Linked DNA regions of Homo sapiens: region 1 is linked to region 2. Evidence: fine-mapped expression QTL. A gene starts in region 2. The other region holds a variant in brackets. All regions are shown on one strand. Distances are between the middles of the regions.

The links. PIP is the estimated chance that this variant, and not a neighbour inherited with it, causes the effect.
Region 1: its variant is the best candidate, but not a certain one, in a credible set for the expression of SMIM2-AS1 in left ventricle (GTEx, PIP 0.77).

The regions. Positions count from the first base shown.
Region 1 is chr13:44,180,430-44,185,816 of GRCh38, reverse strand. No RefSeq gene overlaps it. Among named protein-coding and RNA genes, the nearest start is that of MIR8079, 13 kb to the left of the region's middle. The variant C/T (reference allele first, on the strand shown) is at 2,285.
Region 2 is chr13:44,107,983-44,113,369 of GRCh38, reverse strand. It overlaps SMIM2-AS1 (SMIM2 antisense RNA 1), which reads right to left and starts at 2,821. Exons shown (of 5, transcript NR_104065.1): 1 at 2,758-2,821. The region is part of intron 2 of LINC00390 (long intergenic non-protein coding RNA 390); the gene reads left to right.

The DNA.
Region 1 (5,387 bases), 72 kb before region 2:
TTTAAAGAGCTATTAAATGAATAATTCTCAAACTCTTCCTTCTAGGTATTCTTAAAAGCAGATCAGAAAAAATGGATGCAGCAGTGAATTTGCCTGGAAAGGGAGCCTGGAGTAACCTGACTTTCCTTAAAGTTAGGTTTAAGATATAATTTACATAAGTAAAATTTTTATTGTATAGTTGGTTGAATTTTTACAAATACATTCAATCATGTAACCACCATCACAATGAAGGTAAAGGGTATTTTTTATCATTCCCAAATTTCCTTATGCTCCTTTGCAGTCAATTTCCTTCCTCTACTCCCAGCCCCTGGCAACCACCGAGCTAATTTGTACCCCTGTAATTTTGCCTTTTTCAAAATATAAATGGATTCAGACAGTATGAAGCCTTTTGTATCTGGCTTCTTTTGTATTGTTTAAGACCTGTTTTCCCCCTTTTTATTGGTACATAATAGTTGCACATATTTGTGGGGTACATGGATATTTTCATACAATCATACAATGTGTAATGCTCAAATCAGGGTAATTGGGATATCCGTCACCTCGAATATTTATCTTTTCTTTGCATTCAGAACATTCCCAATCTTCTAGGTATTTTGAAATTTATGATAAGTTATTGTTAACTGTAGTTGCCCTACTGTACTATAAAACACTAGAAGTTACTCCTTTTATTTAACTGTGTTATTGTACCTATTAACCAACCTCTCTTCATCCCCCTTTCCTCTCCCCTTTCCAGCCTCTGGTCACTACCATTCTGTTTACTACCTCCATATATTTTTCACCATATATGAGTGAAAAAATGCAGTATTTGTATTTATGTGCCTGGCTTATTTCACTTAATAACTTCCAGTTTCATCCACGTTGCTGCAAATGACAGGATTTCATCCTTTTTCATGGCCAAATAATATTCCATTACATATATATAGCACATTTTCTTTATCCATTCATCTGTTGATGGACACTTAGGCTGATTCCATGTCTTGACTATTGTGAATAGTGCTGCAATAAACATGGGAATGCAGATATCTCCTTCACATACTGACTGTCTTTCTTTTGGGTATATACTCAGCAGTGGGATTGCTGGATCATATGGTAATTCTGTTTTTAGTTTTTTGAGGAATCTCCCTACTGTTTTTTGTAGTTGTACTAGTTTACATTCCCACCAATAGTGTAAAAGTGTTCCTGTTCCTCTGCATTCTCACCAGCACTTGTTATTTTTTGTCTTTTGATTATAACCATTTCAATTGGGATAAGGTGATATCTCATTATGGTTTTGATTTGCTTTTCTCTGACAACTAGTGATTTTGAATATTTTTTCATATACCTGTGGACCACTTGGTTGTCTTCTTGTCAGATATGTCTATTCACATCTTTTGCTCATTATAAAATCAGATTATTTGTTTTATTGCTATTGAGTTGTTTGTGTTCCTTATGTATTATGGTTATTAATTTCTTGTCAGATGGATAATTTGTTTTCTACCATTCTGTAGGTTGTCTTTTCACTTTGTTAATTGTTTCTTTTGGTATGCAGAAGCCTTTTAGCTTGATGTAATCCCATTTATCAATTTTTGCTTTTGCTGCCTATGCTTTTGGGATCTTACTAAAAAAAAAACTTTGTCCAGACAAATGTTCTGAAACATTTTCCCAAAGTTTCCTGCTAGGAGTTTTATAGTTTCAGGCCTTACATTTAAGATTTTTAATTAATTTTGATTTTTGTATATGATTAGAGATAGGAGTCTAGTTTTATTCTTCTCTATATGGATATCCTGTTTTCCTAGCACCATTTATCAATAAGACAATAATTTCCCCAATGTATGTTCTTGGCACCTTTGTTGAAAATTTGTTGGCTGTAAATGCATGAGTTTATTTCTGGACTTTCTATTCTGTTCCATTGGTTTATGTGTCTGTTTTTATGCCAGTACCATGCTGCTTTGGTTACTGTAACTTTATAGTATATTTTGAAATCAGATGGTATGATGCCTCCAGCTTTGTTCTTTTTGCTTAGGATTGCTTTAGCTATTCAGAATTGATACGAATTTTAAGATGGTTTTTTCTATTTCTATGAACAATGTAATTGGTATTTGGATAGGGTTTTCATTGCATCTGTAGATTACTTTGGGTAGTCTGGACATTTTAACAGTATTAATTCTTCCAATCTATGAACATGGGCTGTCTTTCCATTTTTGGGGGTGTGTCATCTTCAATTTTTTTCACCAGTGCTTTATCTTTTTCCTTGTAGAAATCTTTCTCTTCTTTGGGACAGGCATGGTGGCCCACACCTGTAATC[C/T]CAAGCATTTTGGGAGGCTGAGGCAGGTGGATCACTTGAGGTCAAGAGTCCAAGACCAGCCTGGCCACATGGTGAAACCCTGTCTCTACTAGAAATACAAAATATAGCTGGGTGTGGTGGCCGGCACCTGTAATCCTGGCTACTTGGGAGGCTGAAGCAGGAGAATAGCTTGAAACCAGGAGGTGGATGACAGAGTGAAACTCTTGTCTCAAAAAAAAAAAAAAAATTCTTTCTCTCCTTTGCTTCATTTTATTCCTAAGTATTTTATTTCCTGGTAGTTACTATAAATGGGATTGCTTTCTTGATTTCTTTTTTTTTTCAGATTGTTCGCTGTTGGCTTATGGGAATTGCTGCTGATTTTTGTATTTGGTTTTTTATCCCGCAAATTTACTTAATTTGTTTATCAGTTCTAACAGTTTTTTGGTGGAGTCTTTAGTTCTTTTCTAAATCTAAGATCATTTTACCTGTAAACAAGGATAATCTGACTTCTTTCCAGTTTGGATGTTCTTTATTTTTTTTTCTCTTATCTAAAAGAGATCTGTTGTATGATTCTAGAAACTATTTGAATTTTATATTCAATGCTGACATATATGCTATGTATATCAAAAGTTGAGTAATGTATCTATGTTTGTTCTAGTATTGGAATATATTTAAACCTTATATTTGAAACTTAAACAATTAAATTACTTAAATGCAACTGAATAATAATTAAACAAAACTAATACTCTGTGAAGATGCATCATTTTCAAATTTAACAACATCTCTACTAATTATAAAGGTGTTGTGTTCCACATGTTCTCACTCATAGGTGGGAATTGAACAATGAGAACACATGGACACAGGAAAGGGAACATCACACACCGGGGCCTGTTGTGGGATGGTGGCGGGGAGGGATAGCATTAGGAGATATACCTAATGTAAATGACGAGTTAATGGTTGCAGCACACCAACATGGCACATGTATACATATGTAACAAACCTGCACGTTGTGCACCTGTACCCTAAAACTTAAAGTATAATTAAAAATAAATAAATAAATAAAGGTGTTGTGTTAGAAGACACCCCCAAGAAAGTTCAAAGAGAGATTCATTAAATATTACAAATATATGGAGCAGGCAATAATGAGCAGTAGCCTTCTTACCTTTACTAGAGATTGAAATTATAAGTGTCTTACACCAATATTATATGTGAAATAAATGAAAAACATTTTTAATAAGAAATACATCCAAATAGGCCACATGAAATGCTCAATAGTAATGAGTCATTGAAACATCATCATACCCTAAAGTCTAAAACTAGTACATAACAGTAGGAATAATAGTAGTAATGGCCGTGGGCCCCTGATGTTAAGTTGGTAACCACTAAGCCAGTTCCTTACAAATGGAGTCTTTTGTGGTTGGTTGTTTCCATGGGCATGACTCATTTGTCGGATATGTTTAATACCTGTCTCTGTAATGTTTATTTTTTTAAAAAGTTATTGTATGAAGGTTGTTCTTTCCACTGAAGGTCTAGGTTATGGATGAGATAAACACAAAAAAGAAGAGGCACCCACTTGGTCAGCTGGACAAGCTTCCTGGGCTGCTCTTCTCAGCCATTCCTTACTGAATTCTTTAAGATCTAGATCAAATATTGCCTCTTCTGTGCTCCCATCATGACCCATTCCCTAGCCCAAGGCAGAATGATTTCTTACTTTTGGCCTCTCATAACACTGTGCACATATAGTTATCACATTTTATGGCAATTAATTCTTATATGTGTGTATCTGCTGCTACACTTTCATCTGCTTGAAGACAAGGATTGTCTGACCTCTGTATTATAGATCCTGGCATATGGCAAATCCTTAATAAATATATGCTAAATTTAGTTGAGCCTTGCCAGGCACGGTGGCTCACGCCTTTAATGCCAGCACTTTGGGGGGCCAAGGCAGGCAGATCACTTGAGGCCAGAAGTTCAAGACCAGCCTGGCCAACATGGTGAAACCCCGTCTCTATCAAAAATACAAAAACATTAGCCGGGTGTGGTGGCACGTGCCTGTAATCCCAGCTACTCGGGAGGCTGAGGTAGGAGAATTGCTTGAATCCCGGAGGCGGAGGTTGCAGTGAGCCAAGATTGTGCCACTGCATTCCAGCCTGGGTGACAGAGCGAGGCTCTGTATCAGAGAGAAAGCAAAAAAGAATTTAGTTGGCCCTTGCAATCCATGATATGCCACATGTCACAGAACTCCCCAGTCAGACTTACGAGAACTAAGAACTGGCCTGTGTAGATGGAAAGCTAGTATCCATTCTAATTTGTGCATCAGGCCTCAGGTTTCCTGCCAATCTGCCAAGCTTTTGACACAGATTCCTTCTCTGAGCCTATTTGCCCAGTCCAACTACAAGTATAATTCCTGCTCTGACCCAGATCCACTGCCCCTTCTTGTTCCAGCTCACCAAGGTCTCCTGGTTTGGCCCCATGCATGAAATCTAATACGTGACCAAGGCAACCCTGTTGAAGAGCCTGGCAGGGCAAGCCCACACTGCCAGGTCCCAAGTGATACCCAACTCTCCTGGATGTCTGCAAGGCAACTGGGAGGGCCAAGCAGAATAAACTTTCACATGAGTATTGGGTCAAGTAGCTTATGTACTGCCCACAGCAAACCCTGAAGCAAGAAGCAGTTGCAGGTGTGGGCCAGGTTGAAGCCCAGGAATAAGCAGATTTGTTGGTTGTGATTTCTTGCTTGTTCCTCTGGCTGTGACCATTCCATCTACGGGAAATAGACAAAACTGGAACAAGTGTTCAGGGAAAAGAAAAAAGGAAAAGGAAGTACAGGTAGGTCCAAACAAGGTTAATGGGTGCTTTCTATTCAGCCCCAATTAGGGCTCAGTTACCCCTCTTATAGTGAGTTCAATAGTTGACCCCCAAAGATATGGCCACATTCTAACCCTTAGTTCCTGTAAATGTGAACCTATTTGGAAACGTGTCTTTGCAGATGTAATTAAGTTAAGGATCTTGAGATTATCCAGAATTTAGGGTGAACCCTAAATTCAAAGACAAGTAATAAGAAAAAGGCAGGAGATTTGGGACAGAAACAGACAGAGGGAGAGGGCCAAGTGAAGACAAACAG
Region 2 (5,387 bases):
CAAGAAGAGATAATTTCAGGTGCTTTTCTCTTTTCTTTTTTTCTAAAAGCAAAATAACATCTAACACACAACCCAGCATCTACCAGAACAGAGACAGGCAATAGTGAGGAAAGTTATAGTGGTCTCAGATGGCTGTCTGGGGTCCCAGTCAGCACTGCTTCTGCCAATTAAAATTATTTGTCCTGGGCTTCTTTCACTGTCACAGAGCACCCTCTCCAGTCTTGCTTGATTTCATAAGCAAACAGTTCTCAAGGAGTTGAATAGCCACAGAGGTACAGAATTATCTTTCACCATCTTCTAATGAGTTGTAAGTCACAAACAACAAAAATAGCCTCTTGAGAAGCCCAAATATTGAAAGCAGTCGTCTACTAATGCGTTTCTGCAGAGAGAGGAAGAAGGCAAATGGCTGGAATACCAAGAGGGATGAGATCTACCTCTGCCACTTCCACGACCCAGCATGACAGAAAGTAAATTTTCATCTCTACGCAATAGCAGACACGTAGGAGGGATTCCTAACTCTCACAGGAAAAGGAAACAGGTCATGAAGGTGTTGAGTCTGAGACTCACACATACCCTGAAGATTGTAGTTGATTTCTCAGTGTATTCATCACCATTTATCTTTAAAAGGCAAGCACGACCATTTGTGAAATCCTCTCACAAAATCATCTCTAGAAAGTTGAGCCTGTAATAACAAAATTATTTCTATGCCTTGGTAGAGGGCCCACGAAAATAATATTTTTGATTTAGTTACAGGAATTCTCTTCAGCAAACAATACTGTTAAAGTGTTTTCTCTGGGCTCTGTCCACCTAATAGTTACTGTTTCTAAGTGGGGAAAATGGATTTTGTTCTGTTACAGTTACTATGATTTATACTTTTTTGTCCGGTTATCAAATTATTGTTAACCTTTATCTATCTTTACTCTTTTTAACCTTAAATAGTTCAACTGTTCAAAATTTATCTAAATTACTTTAAAAAAGAATCTAAATAATCTACTCCCAAATCCAAATCTAGAAGAAAGAAAATGATTCTTAAGAGACTACTTCCTTGTGTCTCTGACAGTCTTCAAATCACTTACTTTCCATTTAGTTTCTTTGCAGTTTCACTGTGAAGTGACTGAAACTTCATTTCTATTATATTCTGGAAATTTGGGGATCTGAGATCTAGCAATGTACTCATTTTAAGAAATTACCTTACAGGAAAAATGTTGAGAAATTCCCTGGAGTGTTCCTAAACCAGCTTTGCTGAGGTGTGGGGTTTGGACTCCACTTTTAGTGAGGGCCTGCTGTGTGCTCACCACCATGCCTGGCAGCTTCTGCTGTCATCTCGTTTCACCCTTTGAAAAGTCTAGAAGGAGAGCAGGTATTGTCAGGCCCATTGTGAAGAAATTAAAAGCAAGACTCAAAGAAGCTGTAAGGTGCCTAGGATCATAAGACCAGTAAGCGTGGGTGAGGCCAAGGCTTGGCCTGGATCTCTTACCTCCACTCCTTATTGCTTGTCACATTGTGTACCGATGTCTGGGTATTTTCCCAGCCTGCCATTGATCTTAGAAGGAAAATTCTGCACTGGTGCTGCTCCAAGAGATACAGAGGATGCATTGATCTAACCCAATGTGTTATGTGGTTGATTTCTAAGGTGAAGTGAAATCAGTTCCAAAAAGGTTTGAAGAGATCAGCGCTGTCCATCCAGGGTTAAGACCCTATGTGTACCTTCCCTGGAATTCCATATTTATTGGTGATGCTATTTCTGTCTCAGAAAAGTCCCCCTAATTTCCAAAGTGGCTTACAAATAATAGGTTCTAGATCATCTTGAAAAAATTGGTCAGGTGATTGTGTATAAGAAAGAGGACAATTTTATATCACAAAAAGGAAAATGCACCAACATTTATATGTTTGCATTCAACTGTATGTTGTGCACAGTTGTGTGTGTGTTGGGGTTGGAAGAGTAAGTGTCATGGAAACTGAACGATGCTGGGAAATACATCCTAATTACTCAGGACCATATGTTTTTTATAAACAAGCAAACAAGAGTCATGGATTCAACTATAATGGATAAAAATCTCTCAAGTTAAAAACAATACAAGGAAGTAAAGTAGAATAGCACAGTACAGTAGTTAAGCATGAAGTAGTTAAGCTTGAAGCCAGTTGCCTGAGTTTATAACCCAGTCTGCTAATTACTAGTTGTGTGACATTTGATAGGTCAGTCACTTAAAAACAAAATAAAACAAAACAAACAAATCCTCTGTTCAATATTCCCCTCTATAAAGTGGACACAATAATAATAAGTATGCATAAGGATGTTGCGAAGGTTAGATGAGAAAGTGCAAATGAAATGTCTGATACTTCATAGAAGTGTGTTATAAAAGAGAAAAATATATATACGATTTTTGAACTCCTTGTAATAGAATAATATATTTCTCAGGTTCAAGAAGTTGGGAAAGAGTTAATCACAACAGAATTGTCACCATGCTAAGAGAGAGAGCAAGTGATTTTACTACTAGAAGCCAGTATGAACCCAATAACACAGTATGGGGAAGAGAACATCTAACCAATGCATAATAATTAGGATATTGTTGAGAACCGAGCCCTCCGAGCTTCTACATGCCTTTAACAATTAGTAGGTCAATGACCTTGCTCAGTGGATCTCCACTCATATGGGAGGCACCAGCAAAATGAAGAAAAACCCGCAGACGCTCTTGTAGGAAATGCAATTAAAGTGGAAAGGCCTAAAATAACATTTCCATTGTGCCCCTCACTTACATTGGAGAGTCAGGGCCAGACTGGGAGGCTGGCAGGGAAACAGCTTGGCACTGCAGGCCACCTGGGGTCCATTTGCCAACAGGACTTGTGGCTAACATCCTTTGATAACAAATTTCCCAGAGTCACAGGGCTCTTTTAGATCACCATGATTCCGGGTCACAAGACGGATGGGAAGCCACAGAGCCCCGGGTCCTTTCCGTGAAGTTAAATATTACACCATCCATAATGAAACATCTTTGTATCTCCTCGTGGCCACAATTACTTAGTCACTGATTATACAATAAACTCTTCAGAAATAATTCACAAAGATGAGAAATCAAACCCCACCCTTTTATGTTCTGAGGCATGAACCAGCTCCACCTCTTGAGAGAGGGAGGTAAAGCCTGTTGCACATCTTCAGCCCATGGTATTTTCCGGCAAATGTGGAAGACCCTCAATATTGGAAGGTGATCTGCAGTTCCACAGGGAGACAGTACAATGGGTGCCTGCCTGGGAATGGCAGTGCCTGGCTTCAGATACGATTTCAACCGATCAGCTGTATAGCACTGGGCAAATTACTTAATTTCCTAGGCATCTCAGTTTCCTTATTCACCAAATGGCAGTAATAATTGCACCTACTTCATAAGGTTGTTGGACCTGGCACACTGTAGTTGCTAAATAACCGTCAACTATAATGCCCATTCTCCTGAGTCGTTCACCTTTTCGATAGCCTAGCAAAAAGTTCTTTGAAAAAATGACAACTACCAAACAAAAGGCATATTTCATATAGACAAAATAACTCACATTGTCTCTTACACATGATAGGGACCTTGCCCATGATTGTGGCCCTTACATAATCTGGATAACCATTTGGGTTTTTATTGCTATGTGGTGCTTCTTCTGCAAATGGTATTGTCCTTTGTGAAACCCACTGCTTTTACCTTATCATTGGCAAATACTTTTGGGGTTTACTCGAAATGTATTCACTGGCATGGGGAGTATGGATGAGGTCCCTCCTTCATGGAACTTAGATTCTGGTTAGGTAAGGGGTAACAATAAAGCTTAAGAAGTTTTAGGATCCCAAACTCAGAGTTCAAGGGGCTCATGTGTGAGGAACTCTAGGGGGAGGAAGAAAAGAAGTAAAGTTTAAGCTCAAAATTGAAGGCGGCTGAGAGTTTTGCTTGAGAAAGTGCCCCAGGTGGGTGGAAGAATGTGGTTCCAATACCTAAAAGGAAAAGAAGCTTGGAGTTGAGAGGAGCCGAGGCCTTCCACCCACCTGCAGCAATGTCAGGCGGTAAGAGGATGATGGTCAGGCTGACCTAGGCTTGGAGACCACATCAAAGGGTCAGGCTTGATCCCAAAAGTATCAAGGAATCACGGAAGGGTTTCACACTGGGAGTGAAATGGTCTGACCTGAGGTGAGGCTGGATCATCTTGGCTGCTCTGTGAGGCAGGAGAGAATGTGGGGATCCTGGTGGGAGGCTGTGGCTGTCAAGTCGGCACAAGTGCACCATCTTTTAATGATTCTGGCCCAGACTTGGGTGGTTTGGAGGTAAAGAGGTAGATAGATTTGAGAAACATTTAAACATTTGGCTTAAAACTAAAGCTAGCCCTCCCTGCCCCACAAATCAGGATAAGTAGCAACATTAACCTATAGTCGGCCCTTCTGCTACCAACACCCAGGACGTTTTTAGTTTGGAAAAAGAAGGGACCTGGTATCTAAAGTGCAGCTTGGGGGTTTTCTACTGAGGTCAATGACCTGCACTGCTCTGCCTGACCCATTGCCACCTCAGACACTGAAGCCTGCTCAGCCTCCTCTCACCCTAATTACACTTATCATGCAAAGCCCTAATACAGCCAGGAAGGGCTCAACACCAGTCCCTCTAGCCAAACAATCAGCAAACTAAGATAACTTTAAAGAGTGTCAAGCCCAACTTTATGACTCCTTCATAGGCACCAAGGGCATTGTCTCAGCAGCCTCAGCCACCAGACAGGATGGCCCAGGGCTGCTTGTTCCTTGACCTGCTAGGACCAACTGTGACTCATCTATTTACTGCAGAGCAAAGGTAACTTGGGTTGCACAAGTTGACAGCTGTCTCCCAGGTGACAATCAGTACTGGAAATAAAGGCACTGGGCTTTAACTGGAAAAGTTTCTACTGGCATAGACCCAGGCTGGATGAGGCAGGGACGTGAGAGATGGCATGCACGTATTTTAAAGAACTGGGGTCCTCACAGCTGACTGGCTATTTCAAGTCACTCTTGTTATTATCTCACTGAGCAGCTTGGAGCCTAGTGATGTCACTTATATGTGCTCTGTTATTTACAGTTTGGATATTTTAGGCCCACAACCGTACTTCCTTTCTTGGCAGAAGGAAGATTAGGAGCAGCAATAATATTATAGTAATATTGGTATCATTTATTAATGGGATAGTCTATTCTGAAAGCAGTATGTCACTCAGGTTATACACATTGTCTGTAACCCAGGGTTCACAACCTAGGGTTCGCTTAGGAATCTCCCAGGAATCTTCAAAATACTGGTGCCTGGGTCTACTCTCCAAAGACTGATTGGGTAGGACCAGGGCATTGGCATGTTAAGGCTCGCCAGGGAATTCTAATGTGTACTTAAGGTCGAGAAACAGCTTTCATCATC